3 linked regions of the Homo sapiens genome follow. The protein of the gene in region 1 interacts with the protein of each later gene in a pairwise test. Each region holds a gene or a part of one and is shown in the gene's direction. Other genes may lie near its edges.

Evidence for each region.
Region 2: the proteins of TNNI2 (region 1) and ESRRG interact in binary tests that used the Homo sapiens proteins (3 or more experiments, as listed by UniProt).
Region 3: the proteins of TNNI2 (region 1) and DRC8 interact in binary tests that used the Homo sapiens proteins (3 or more experiments, as listed by UniProt).

What each region holds. Positions count from the first base shown.
Region 1 is NC_000011.10:1,837,211-1,840,960, forward strand, and holds the start of TNNI2 (troponin I, fast skeletal muscle), read left to right. Parts: upstream 1-1,770; 5' UTR 1,771-1,823; intron 1,824-2,258; exon of another isoform or gene 2,259-2,317; intron 2,318-2,464; 5' UTR 2,465-2,486; coding exon 2,487-2,494; intron 2,495-2,638; coding exon 2,639-2,645; intron 2,646-2,996; exon of another isoform or gene 2,997-3,013; coding exon of another isoform or gene 3,014-3,028; intron 3,029-3,192; coding exon 3,193-3,234; intron 3,235-3,317; coding exon 3,318-3,446; intron 3,447-3,608; coding exon 3,609-3,698; intron 3,699-3,750. Other genes in the region: SYT8 (synaptotagmin-8), read left to right, coding at 1-221. UniProt on the Homo sapiens protein: Troponin I is the inhibitory subunit of troponin, the thin filament regulatory complex which confers calcium-sensitivity to striated muscle actomyosin ATPase activity.
Region 2 is NC_000001.11:216,674,729-216,678,478, reverse strand, and holds part of ESRRG (estrogen-related receptor gamma), read left to right. Parts: intron 1-987; coding exon 988-1,403; intron 1,404-3,750. UniProt on the Homo sapiens protein: Orphan receptor that acts as a transcription activator in the absence of bound ligand. Binds specifically to an estrogen response element and activates reporter genes controlled by estrogen response elements.
Region 3 is NC_000001.11:245,077,629-245,081,378, forward strand, and holds part of DRC8 (dynein regulatory complex protein 8), read left to right. Parts: intron 1-3,750. UniProt on the Homo sapiens protein: Component of the nexin-dynein regulatory complex (N-DRC), a key regulator of ciliary/flagellar motility which maintains the alignment and integrity of the distal axoneme and regulates microtubule sliding in motile axonemes.

The sequences.
Region 1 (3,750 bases):
CTGTCTGGGACCGCAGCCTGCCGCTCCGAACTGAGCCCGTAGGCAAGGTGCACCTGGGTGCCCGGGCCTCGGGGCAGCCCCTGCAGCACTGGGCAGACATGCTGGCCCACGCCCGGCGGCCCATTGCCCAGCGGCACCCCCTGCGGCCAGCCAGGGAGGTGGACCGCATGCTGGCCCTGCAGCCCCGCCTTCGCCTGCGCCTGCCCTTGCCCCACTCCTGAATGCACCACATGCCTCTGTCTCCCCGCTGAGCCCAGGCACTTGCCCAGGCCGCCCTGCAGGACCACTGCAATAAACGCCTTCTCCTGCCACTGTGTGTCCGGCTGGAGCCTGGAGGGGATGCAGAAATAGGGCCCGGGCCCGCTCACCAGGGTCCCCTGACAAGGACGGGGGAGGGGCTCCTCTCCAGACTCAGCCAGGCCCTGAGGCCTCTGACCGGTCCCTGCTTGACCCTCGGGTAGGGGTGGGGAACCTCCCCGGGGAGCACAGATCTCCCCTCTCCGGGCCGCCTGGGAAGACCGGGGAGGTGGGGGCCAGAGAGTCGGGACCACATGGGATGGGGCGGGCTAGAGCCAGCCCTGTAGGGACAGAGTGGGCAATGGTGTCTGGGGGCTGGTGAGCATGGAGGGAGGACCCCCAACACCTCAGAGACCTGTGCTGCAGGGCCTTCCCTGCATGAGCAGCAGGGGGCAGCAGATGCCTTCGGAAGCCGCTGGGGCCTTTAGGGGCTCAGTCCTGGCCGGATGCCCCTCCCAGTCCCCACACATCTGGGCTGCCTTAGCGGCTGGGGCCTCCACGCTGCTGTCTCCTCTGATCCTCCCCACGGGGCTGCGAAGCCGGCAGGGCTGGGGCCAAGAGCCCCCACTCCGAGAGGGTGCCAAGTCACGGTCCAGGGGACCTCTGCAGGGCGGGGGCCTGGGGGCTGGGGGGGCGATGGCCTCGGGCCTGGGTGAAAAGGGCAATGCCAGGCCTGCCCGGGCAGCCAGGAGGGCCCCAAGCCCCCACGGGTGTGAGAGGCTCCCAATGCAGGTGGCGCCATTCTCCTTAGGTTGAAGGATGTGTTCCAAGTCGCCCGGCAAGGGGACTGCAGCAGGGCGTTCTGGGCAGGCGGGAGGGGCCCAGAGGCACGTGCGGCGTGCCCCTCACTCCTGGTCCTGCTCCCCAGGCAGGAAGATAGCATCACGCAGGGAGGGGGCAGCCCCCAGCCCTCGGCCACTGTGGCAGGGCCCAGAAGGCCACATCTGGAGGTCCAGGCCTCACCCCAGAAGCCAGGCTTGCAGAAGGGGGTCAGGCCTGGGCTGAAGTGGGAAACCCATTGCAGGGGCTGAGCCGGGGAGCTGGCCCCGCAGGGAGAGGCTGTGGCTGTCGCCAGCAAGCAGCCAGGTTGGTGGACTGGACGCTGACCTCGGGTGAGATGGGCTGAGGCGAGGTGTGGATACTCGCAGCTACCCCTCAGCTGACCCGAGCTGTGTGCCCGGCTGAGGCCACAGGCAAAGCCAGGGACACTGTCCTCAGGCTCCTTACGAGAACGACAGAGGCATCTCCAGCGCGTCACCGAGCCCTAAATAGAGTAGCCCAGCCACGGCACCCCCCACCAAGACTTCTTGGACTGGGCGGCAGCACGCGGCCAGGCCAGGCGGCCGGACAGGTGGGGAGGTCTCTGTGGCTCTCCACGCCCCCATTGGTCTGAGGAGGACTCTATGCCCTTTCTGAGCAGGGGCCCAGCCTGGGGGAGGCCATTTATACCCCTCCCCCTGGGCCCACCAGCCCAACTCGCCGCTGCCGGCCTGACCTCGCTCCCAGCCCTGCTGCCCAGATTCTAGGTGAGGCCCAGCCCGGCCCGCCGAGGCCGGGGGACAGGGCGTGGCTCGAGCTGGTTTGAGGGAGGACTTCCTGGGGCGGGGGTCTGGGGGCCTGGGGGATGCCACCAGCAGCCCCCTTTGGGGCCTGCACGGGTCCGGGAGTGAGAAGGAGAGGCTTTGGGGAGGCAGCTGTAGCGAGAGGCAGGTATTAGACACTCCCTGACCACCAGGCTTCACCTCTGGGGACCCTGGAAGGAGAGTTTAGGGGTCAAGAAGCCCCAGAACCTGAGCCCCCAGGCCAAACTGAGGAGGGATTTCTTCCATGCACTTAGGCCCAAAGCCAAAGAGAGAGGGTTAAAAATAACAGCGTCACTCAGGCGGCCACCTGCGCTGGCCCATCCCACCCTCCCTCGGGGACAGCTGCAGCTCCTCAGGCTATGCCTGGGACATTTTGGGAACACTTTCTCCTCTTACTTCTCACCCTGGGGAATTCCAAGACATTGTCCTTGAAGGAGGTGAGAGTAGGGGGAGGAGGTGAGAGTAGGGGGTGGGCGGGAGGGGGCTGTCATCAGGAGCCCTGAACCCCTCACCACCTACCTGATGGGCACAGGCATCACGGTGGCAAGGGCCTGGCCAACACCTCTGTCTTCCTCTCCCCACAGGCTCCAAGCTCAGGACCTCAGGATGGGAGAGTAAGTGGTACCCCTGTACCCCCATACAGTGACCCTGCCCACCTCCTGCCCTGTCCACCCCATCACACACTCCGACCCCGCCAGCCATGGCCCTAACCTCTGTCTTCTCTCCCCGTCCTGCCTGCGTCCTCCCTCCCTGGACAGTGAGGAGGTAAGTAGTTGCTGGGGGCTCAAAACATGACGAGGAGGGGGCTCCCCCAACTCAGCATAGGTCATAGGTCACAGCCTCAAGGCCCTAAGGCCCAGAGAAGATGGCCTGGCCCTCCCCGCTGGCAAAAGTGCCCCACCCACCCACCAAGACGCTGCTGAAAGAGAGGAAGTGGCTGCCCCAAGCCTTCTGGGGCAGGGGAAGTGTGGCTGTGGCCTGGTCACAGGGGAATCACTTCTTCTTTCTGATTCCTGCACTTCCCGCCCCCACCTCACCGGCCGACCTGCCCCCAACTGGCCCTCCTCTCCCCCAGCCTCTGGCCTCCCAGCACCATGTGCCACCTGGCAAAGTGTCACACACCACACAGCACCATGTCCCAGTGCAAGGTCTGGGGCCAGGGAGGCCCAGCCTGCCCATCATGGCCTCAGGAGCCCCCAGGCTCTGCTGGTCCCGGAGCCGGAGCCCCTGACCTGGCCAGGGAGCGTGGAAGGGGGTGGGGGTGCTCCAGGCCTGGAGGCCCTGACTCGACCCCCTGTCCCCTGCCCTGCAGAAGCGGAACAGGGCCATCACGGCCCGCAGGCAGCACCTGAAGGTAGGTGTGGGCTCCCGGGGGGGTGGCCCAGGTGGGTCTGCAGGGGAGCTGGCTGCAGCCCCTCACCGCCTGCCCCACCGCAGAGTGTGATGCTGCAGATAGCGGCCACGGAGCTGGAGAAGGAGGAGAGCCGCCGTGAGGCAGAGAAGCAGAACTACCTGGCGGAGCACTGCCCGCCGCTGCATATCCCGGGCTCCATGTCTGAAGTGCAGGTACCAGCCCCTCCCCGGCCACCCCGCCTCCCCAGCAGCAGGCCTGCCTGCTAACTCAGTTTCCCCACTTGTCAAGAGGGCCAGTGGGGTGGTCAGGGCAGGGGCAGGTGACCGTGGCTGCCAAGTGTCAGGACGGCCGCCCGCCCCCACACCCACCCCTAGGAGCTCTGCAAACAGCTGCACGCCAAGATCGATGCGGCTGAAGAGGAGAAGTACGACATGGAGGTGAGGGTGCAGAAGACCAGCAAGGAGGTGAGTGGTGGCGGCGGGCCGGCGGCAGGCGGGTAGGCGGTGGCCCAGCGGG
Region 2 (3,750 bases), on another chromosome or scaffold:
AAGTGGGGGAAGGACCATCACAAATATATTTTTTAGGACAAAATATGCTACATTTCTACTTTACTGAATGTAAATATAACATCAGATTTTATAGTATCAGATAATATACATATAATATCAGATTTGTGGACTTACAGGTATACTGAAGGCTCAAATGGCTTTTACTGATTCATCTCTTAAATAATGGCAAATCACACATAAGAAACACATGCACGTATTTATTAATGAATGTTGGTGATGAGTCACTAAGTTTTGCAGGCTCTAGGAATAATCTTTAAATATTGGCTGGAATTTTATACTTGATGTCTTTCTATATTGCCAAATGGCTATGAAATAGAGCAATTTAAATAAAGAAACAAAGTGATTGAGGATATATTCCCTATGTGTTTTAGTCAGATCAATAAGACACAGTTATGCTTATGGAAGCGTGCTGACAAACAGTAATTACAGAGCTGAGGATCATCTGTTCAGTCTTGAAAATAAAAGTTTTATTCTGCTCATAATAAAATGATTGCAGCATCAGAATGAGGAAGGAAAGGTAGAATGAGGATAAATACAATTTTAGAAATGGTATAGACTTTGCAAATCACCACCTCTTCCATTGATAAATTTAGAATCTAGAGTTGAGTTAGATATTGACACTGGTTCTCCAAGAGAAAGGTAAAATAAAAGCAATCGGACTCTTTAGAGCTTTTGTTTATGGCCTGTCTGGGCCCTTTGTTGTAACCCTGTCATGCCCTTATGCTGATTACCTTCTTGTAGAACAAGAAGTATTGACTAGAGAATGAATGATGTGTAGTCCCTAGCCCTTAGGAAACTCTCTCAAAGAGCAATGTCTTTAACATATGAATTCTGTTTTTTTCCTCCTTTTACCTTTCCCTTTCCCTTTCTCTATTTTTCACCATCTCTTTTGTTTCTACCTCTTTTGGTCTCTGTGCTTGACACTCTCTCCTCTTTCTGTCTCTCTTTGTATCTCCTCAATCTCAGGCTTCTCTGCAGAATGTCAAACAAAGATCGACACATTGATTCCAGCTGTTCGTCCTTCATCAAGACGGAACCTTCCAGCCCAGCCTCCCTGACGGACAGCGTCAACCACCACAGCCCTGGTGGCTCTTCAGACGCCAGTGGGAGCTACAGTTCAACCATGAATGGCCATCAGAACGGACTTGACTCGCCACCTCTCTACCCTTCTGCTCCTATCCTGGGAGGTAGTGGGCCTGTCAGGAAACTGTATGATGACTGCTCCAGCACCATTGTTGAAGATCCCCAGACCAAGTGTGAATACATGCTCAACTCGATGCCCAAGAGACTGTGTTTAGTGTGTGGTGACATCGCTTCTGGGTACCACTATGGGGTAGCATCATGTGAAGCCTGCAAGGCATTCTTCAAGAGGACAATTCAAGGTTAGTGTCGGACCTGGGAATACTCTCCCCACTTCCAACCTCACATGATGGGTTTTTGTTTTTCCTTATTCTTATTCTCATAAGTCAAGTATCATAGTTTTAATTCTCTCTTGAGTAGAAAATGGAAATAGATTACAATTGATAGTGGAAGATTTATAGAATAAAATCCCCCCAGATATACTCCATATCTATTAATTTTCCTCTTACTGTTAAGCTTTAATGGTGCAAGGATAATAAACTTTGGGTAGAGTTTACAAGAGCATAGTTATTATTAGAGCAATGTGGGTCTATATAGCAACTGTACAAATGCACATTGGACTAACAGTGTTTTTGACCCCTTTGGATCTTCTTACAGATGCATGGAAATAATAAATACTTTAGACCAGTGATTTCCAAACTTGAGTGTGCATTAAAATCATCTGGAAATCTTGTTAAAATGCAGATTCCTGGGTCCTACCTCCAGAATTTCTGATTCATTAGATCTGGGGTGGGGGCCTGCCTGAGATTGTATATTTTTAACAAATTTTCAGGTAATGCTGATGATGCTGCCGGTCCAGGGACCAATTTTAAGAATCACTGCTCTAGACAAATTTAATTACCTACTCATCTTTCTTTTTTCCTTATGGTTGGATATACTTTTTCTAACTTTTAAATGAATTTATATTAAAAAAAACCTTCCAAATTATACCAATAAAATGGCATTGAATGATAAAATATACCTCCAACATATATAAGTGATATATACCCCAAACTTCATAGATTTCAGATTTATAAATAACATTATTTCCGCCATACAGTGTAGAAAAATAGGACTGAAATTTGTTTATGCCCTTTTAAACTGGTAATCTACAGATCTAGAATTCAGTTCATGAAAAAGCTATAGATATATATTCTGGCAAAAAAATTAGATTTCACGTTTTTAGGTCTCTTGTAATTCACTTTTGAAGAAAATAGGGGAAGAAAAAAATATATTTTGAGGATCCACAGCACACCAATGGTTCTGCTCAGTGGTTTACAAAATGTGTCTTCCTAACAACCAGTTATGGACACAAAGTCTATCTTCCCACATATCAGTGGTTCTCAAGCTTGCCAGCTCATTGGAATCAGTGGAAGACTTAAAAAAACATGCTGATGTCAGGGCTCATGTCCCCAAATTCTGAATTAATTGGTCTTGGGTACAGCCAGGGAAAGGGGGGTTTTTGAAAGCTTCCTAGGTGATGCTTAATGTAAAGGCAAAGTTAAGAAACACTGCACTGTACTGTGTTGTATTATTTGCCAACAGTTCTCAAAGTGCAGTGGCTGTACCAGCAGTACCAGCATCATCTGGGAAAATGTAAGAAATGCAAGTTCCCAGGCCCCATCCTGTATTAACTCAAACAGAATCTCTGAGGGTGGGCCTAGCAATCTGCATTTTACCAACCCTCTGGGTAATCCTGATGCTAATTCAAATTTAGACCCCCTGCTCTAGACCATGCTACTGCTGATTCACCACTGACCATAGACCATCATCATCTAATGGCCCCTTGCTGGACAGAACTGAAACTAATTTATGTGGAGCCTTCATAATTTTGTGACGTACTAGTTTTCAAAGTACAAAAGAAGTAATGTTTGTTAAGTGCTAATCCTTTTAAATATTTTCACAAAACATGATTCTGAAACCCTTTATGTGTACATAGAGCAGTCTCCCACCTTCTCCCCCTTTTTTTTTTCTTTTTGAGGCAGATTTTTACTCTTGTGGCCCAGGCTAGAGGGCAATGGCATGATCTCGGCTCACTGCAACCTACATCTCCTGGGTTCAAGTGATTCTCTTGCCTCAGCTTCCCAAGTAGCTGGGATTACAGGCATGCACCAACACGCTTCTCTAATTTTGTATTTTTAGTAGAGACAAGGTTTCACCACATTGGCCAGGCTGGTCTCGAACTCCCGACCTCACGTGATCCACCCGCCTCAGCCTCCCAAAGTGCTGGGATTACAGGCATGAGCCACCGTGCCCGGCCCACCTTCCCTTTTAAGAGCATCTGGAAATTCAACTCTTCTTCATCAGTTGCACTGAATATTTTAGTGACAATCCTTACTTGTACTGGCTCTCCCTTGCTTTTTTGTTGTCTGTTACATAACTTCCTTGATCTGTGGCTGATGAGAACACAATCAAAATGTTTACTTAGTCAGGTGCAGTGGCTCATGCCTGTAATCCCACCACTTTGGGAGGCTGAGGCTGGAGGATCCCTTAAGGCCAAAAGTTCAAGAGATTAATCTGGGCAACAAAGTGAGAACCCTGTCTCTATAAAAAATTTACAAATTAGTTGAGCATGGTGGCATGCACCTGTAGTCGTGGCTACTGGAAAGG
Region 3 (3,750 bases), on another chromosome or scaffold:
ATAGTGTCTTCAATGAATGATGATGGGAAAACTGTTATTTACATGGAGAAGAATGAAATTGGATCCGTATCTCACACCATACACAGAAATCAACTCAAGCTGGATTAAAGATTTAAATGTGAGACTTGGAGCCATAAAACTAGAAGAAAACATAGGGAAAATGCTCTTTGACATTGGTCTGGGCAATGATTTTTTGGATATGATACTAAGAGCACAGGCAACAAAAGCAAAAATAAACAAGTGGCACTACATCAAACTAAAAAGTTTCTGCATGCAAAAGAAACAAGGAGCAACCTATGGAATGGGAGAAAATGTTGCAAACCATACATTTGACAAGGGATTAATATTCCAATACATATAAGGAACTCAGACAACTCAATTGCAAAAACAAAAACGACCTAATTAAAAAAAACGGAAAAAAGGACCTGACATTTTTTCAAAGGTGATGTACAAATGTCCAACAGGTATATGAACATCATTGTTCATCAAGGAAATGCAAACCAAAACCACAATGGGATGTCACCTCACCCCTATTGTAATGGCTACTATCAAAAAGACAAAAGTGTTGGTGAGGGTGTGGAGAAAAAGGAACCTGTTGGTGGGAGTGTAAATTGGCACAGCCACTACGGAAAACAGTACGGGGGTTTCTCAAGAAACTAAAAATAGAATTACCATATCATCCAACAATCCCACTTATGGGTATAAGTCCCAAAAGAAATAAAATCAGAATCTCTAAGAGCTATCTGTATTGCCATGTTTATTGCAGCATTATTCACAGTAGCTAAGATATGGAAACAACGTGTCTATAAACAAATGAGTGGATAGTATATGTACACACACACACACGTATGTAATGGAATATTATTCAGCCTTAAAAAAGGAGGTCCTGCTATTTGCAACAACATGGATGAACTTGGAGGACATTATGCTAAGTGAAATAAGCCAGACACACAGAAAGACAAATACTGCATGATCTCTGTTACATTTTCAAAAGTCAAACTCATGGAAACAGAGAGTAGATGGGTAGTTAACCGGGGGTGGGGGTAGAGGAAATGGGAAAATGTTGGTCAAAGAGTACAAACTTTTAGTGATAAGAAAAACAATTTCTGATGTACAGTGTGGTAACTATGGTTAATAATTATTCTATACTTGAAATTTACTAAGAGAGTAGTTCTCAAGTATTCTCACCACACATACAAAAAAGGTAACTAGTGAGTCGGTGGATAAGTTAATTAGCCTGTGTGGTAATCATTCCACAAGGTATATGTATATCAAAACATCGTGTGGCACACCTTAAATATATGCAATTTTTATTTGTCCATCATACCTCAGTAAGACTGGAAAAAAATAGAGGAAACTGAGTGAGAGAGGTATATGGGAACTCTGTATTATATTTGGAACTTTTCTGTATATCTAAAACTATTCTAAAATCCAAAGGTTATTCAAATATAAAATCCTTTTATAATATAAAATAGTGTCTATATTAAACATTCCATGAATTCTGTACTTAGAATTATTGTATAATTTTATTGTTTTTAATGCCATTGCTTATACATGTTTTTGTACTCAAGAACAAATTGGATACGGCCTCTAGAGGACAGTGTTGGGTCATAGAAAGATTTTACAATTTCTGCCCAAGTTGAAGATGGTCATAATCATTTTTCTTCTTCTTTTCTAACCACAAGTCCTGTTTATTCGTTGTCCCTCTGTAAAAACAACAATAACAAAGAACACTTATGACCCCTCTGCTGTTCTGACTAGTTGGCTGTTTTGTTTTAACTTATTTTCGTATAATTTTGGTTCCACAAACATCTATTAGGCAAGAAAGATCTGCGGAGTTGGCACCATAATGTTCACATCCCTGAGGGTTTGTGAAAGTTGTGAGGGAACCCGGGGAAGCGATATGAGGCGTATATTATGTGTCATTTGTGAGTTCTTCCACGATGGAGACGGAATTATAGAGTTGAACTTCCTTTGGAAAAACAAACCACGGTTCGTAGCTTGATCAGGGTGCATGTAAGCTAAAGAGGGGTTTTGGTCTTTTAAAGGTTGAGACTGCCTGCTCTACAGTGGTTTGTTGGTGGTGGGAGGAAAGGAAAAAAACCATTGCTCTTGCTTCTGGAGCAAATTTCTGGAGTAATCAGAATAGCAACTCAACATTTTAATTTTAAAATTCCTCCTCCGGAGATAACCTCGTAGGATTGCCATTGTATTTGCCCGGGGCTCCTGAGGTGGGGAGTTGCAGAGTGCTGCTCAAGTGCGTCAGAGCCATATGAACATTCACCTGCAAAATGCTCGCCTTGGACTTAGAGGCAGCTGAAGACAATTGTTCATGAATGGATGGGCTCAGAAATTCTGAAACACACAATTCTGTCATTGAATGCGCTGAATTTTCTGCCGAGAGTGGAGTCTGAGGGTTCTACCTTGCTAGGTGTGAATCTAGTATAAACATTAAAAAATAGGAGTCATTTGGATGATGGTGTGTTCCACTTAGCAGCAACCTATAGTTTTTCGTTTGTTTGTTTTTGCTCGAAGAATAAATCTGTCCAAAGCTCATCTGCTGAATTGGGATCTTTGAGCCTTTTAATAGGAGTCTTGAGAGGGAGTGGAAAATGTACAGCTCCTTATAGATAGCCCGACATGAAAGTTAAGGTCAATGGTGTTTTGTTCAGCCACTCCATCCAAGTCGAACCCACGGGCAGGGATCTGTTTTGTTCTCATTTACTAGTGCTAAGTGCCAAACATTCTCTTTCTCAGGTATAGTCTTCTAATTTAGTGGTGGTGTGACAAAGTTCTATTTACCATATAGGTACTTAATACGTATTATGATGATTTAAGATGTAGTTGGTCCTTGAGATCGTGATTGGTCCCCTCAGCTGGTCCCTCACTCAGGATTCCTTATCTCAGGGAAAAGCATCACCTTATCCCAGTGGTATAAGTCAGAATCTTGGGAGTCATCCTTGAATCCTCTGTTTTTTCCATCCTTACTCATAATGAATGCAGGACCAGGTCCTACCAATTTCACTTCTTAAATATTTTTTGAAGCCATCCATTTCTCTCTCCATGGCCGCCACTCCAATCTAAGCCCTTGTCATATCTGCTTAGACTACTGAAGAAGCTGCCTCACCCTCAAGCAGTGTGCTCTTCCAAAACATGCATCTATGAGACCGTCACTGATTTCCCATTGTTCTCAGGCTAGCAACCTTATCACTGTCATGGACAAGAAGGCCCTGCCGTCGGGCCCCTGTCTCTCTTTCTAGCCTCATCTTGAAGCCTTCTCCCTGCTCCTTGTACTCCAGCCTCCTAGCCGCCAATGTGTCAGCAGAGAGTCTTCGCGTATTCAGTTTCCTCTAGGTGACTGTCTCTCCCCTGCTGTCTCTGTCTCATTACCTTCTACTCATACTCTCTAAATCAGCTGGAGTGTTATTTCCTCATGGATGACTTCCCTGGTCTCCTGGTCTAAGAAGTGTTCTTTATTTTTTTATTTTTATTTTATTTTATTATTTTATTTATTTTTTATTTTTTTATTTATCTATATATATATATTTTTTGAGACGGAGTCTCGCTCTGTCACGCAGGCTGGAATGCAGTGGCCTGATCTCGGCTCACTGCAAGCTCTGCCTCCTGGGTTCACGTGATTCTCCTGCCTCAGCCTCCTGAGTAGCTGGGACTACAGGCGCCCACCACCATGCCTGGCTAATTTTTTGTAGTTTTAGTAGAGACAGGGTTTCACCGTGTTAGCCAGGATGG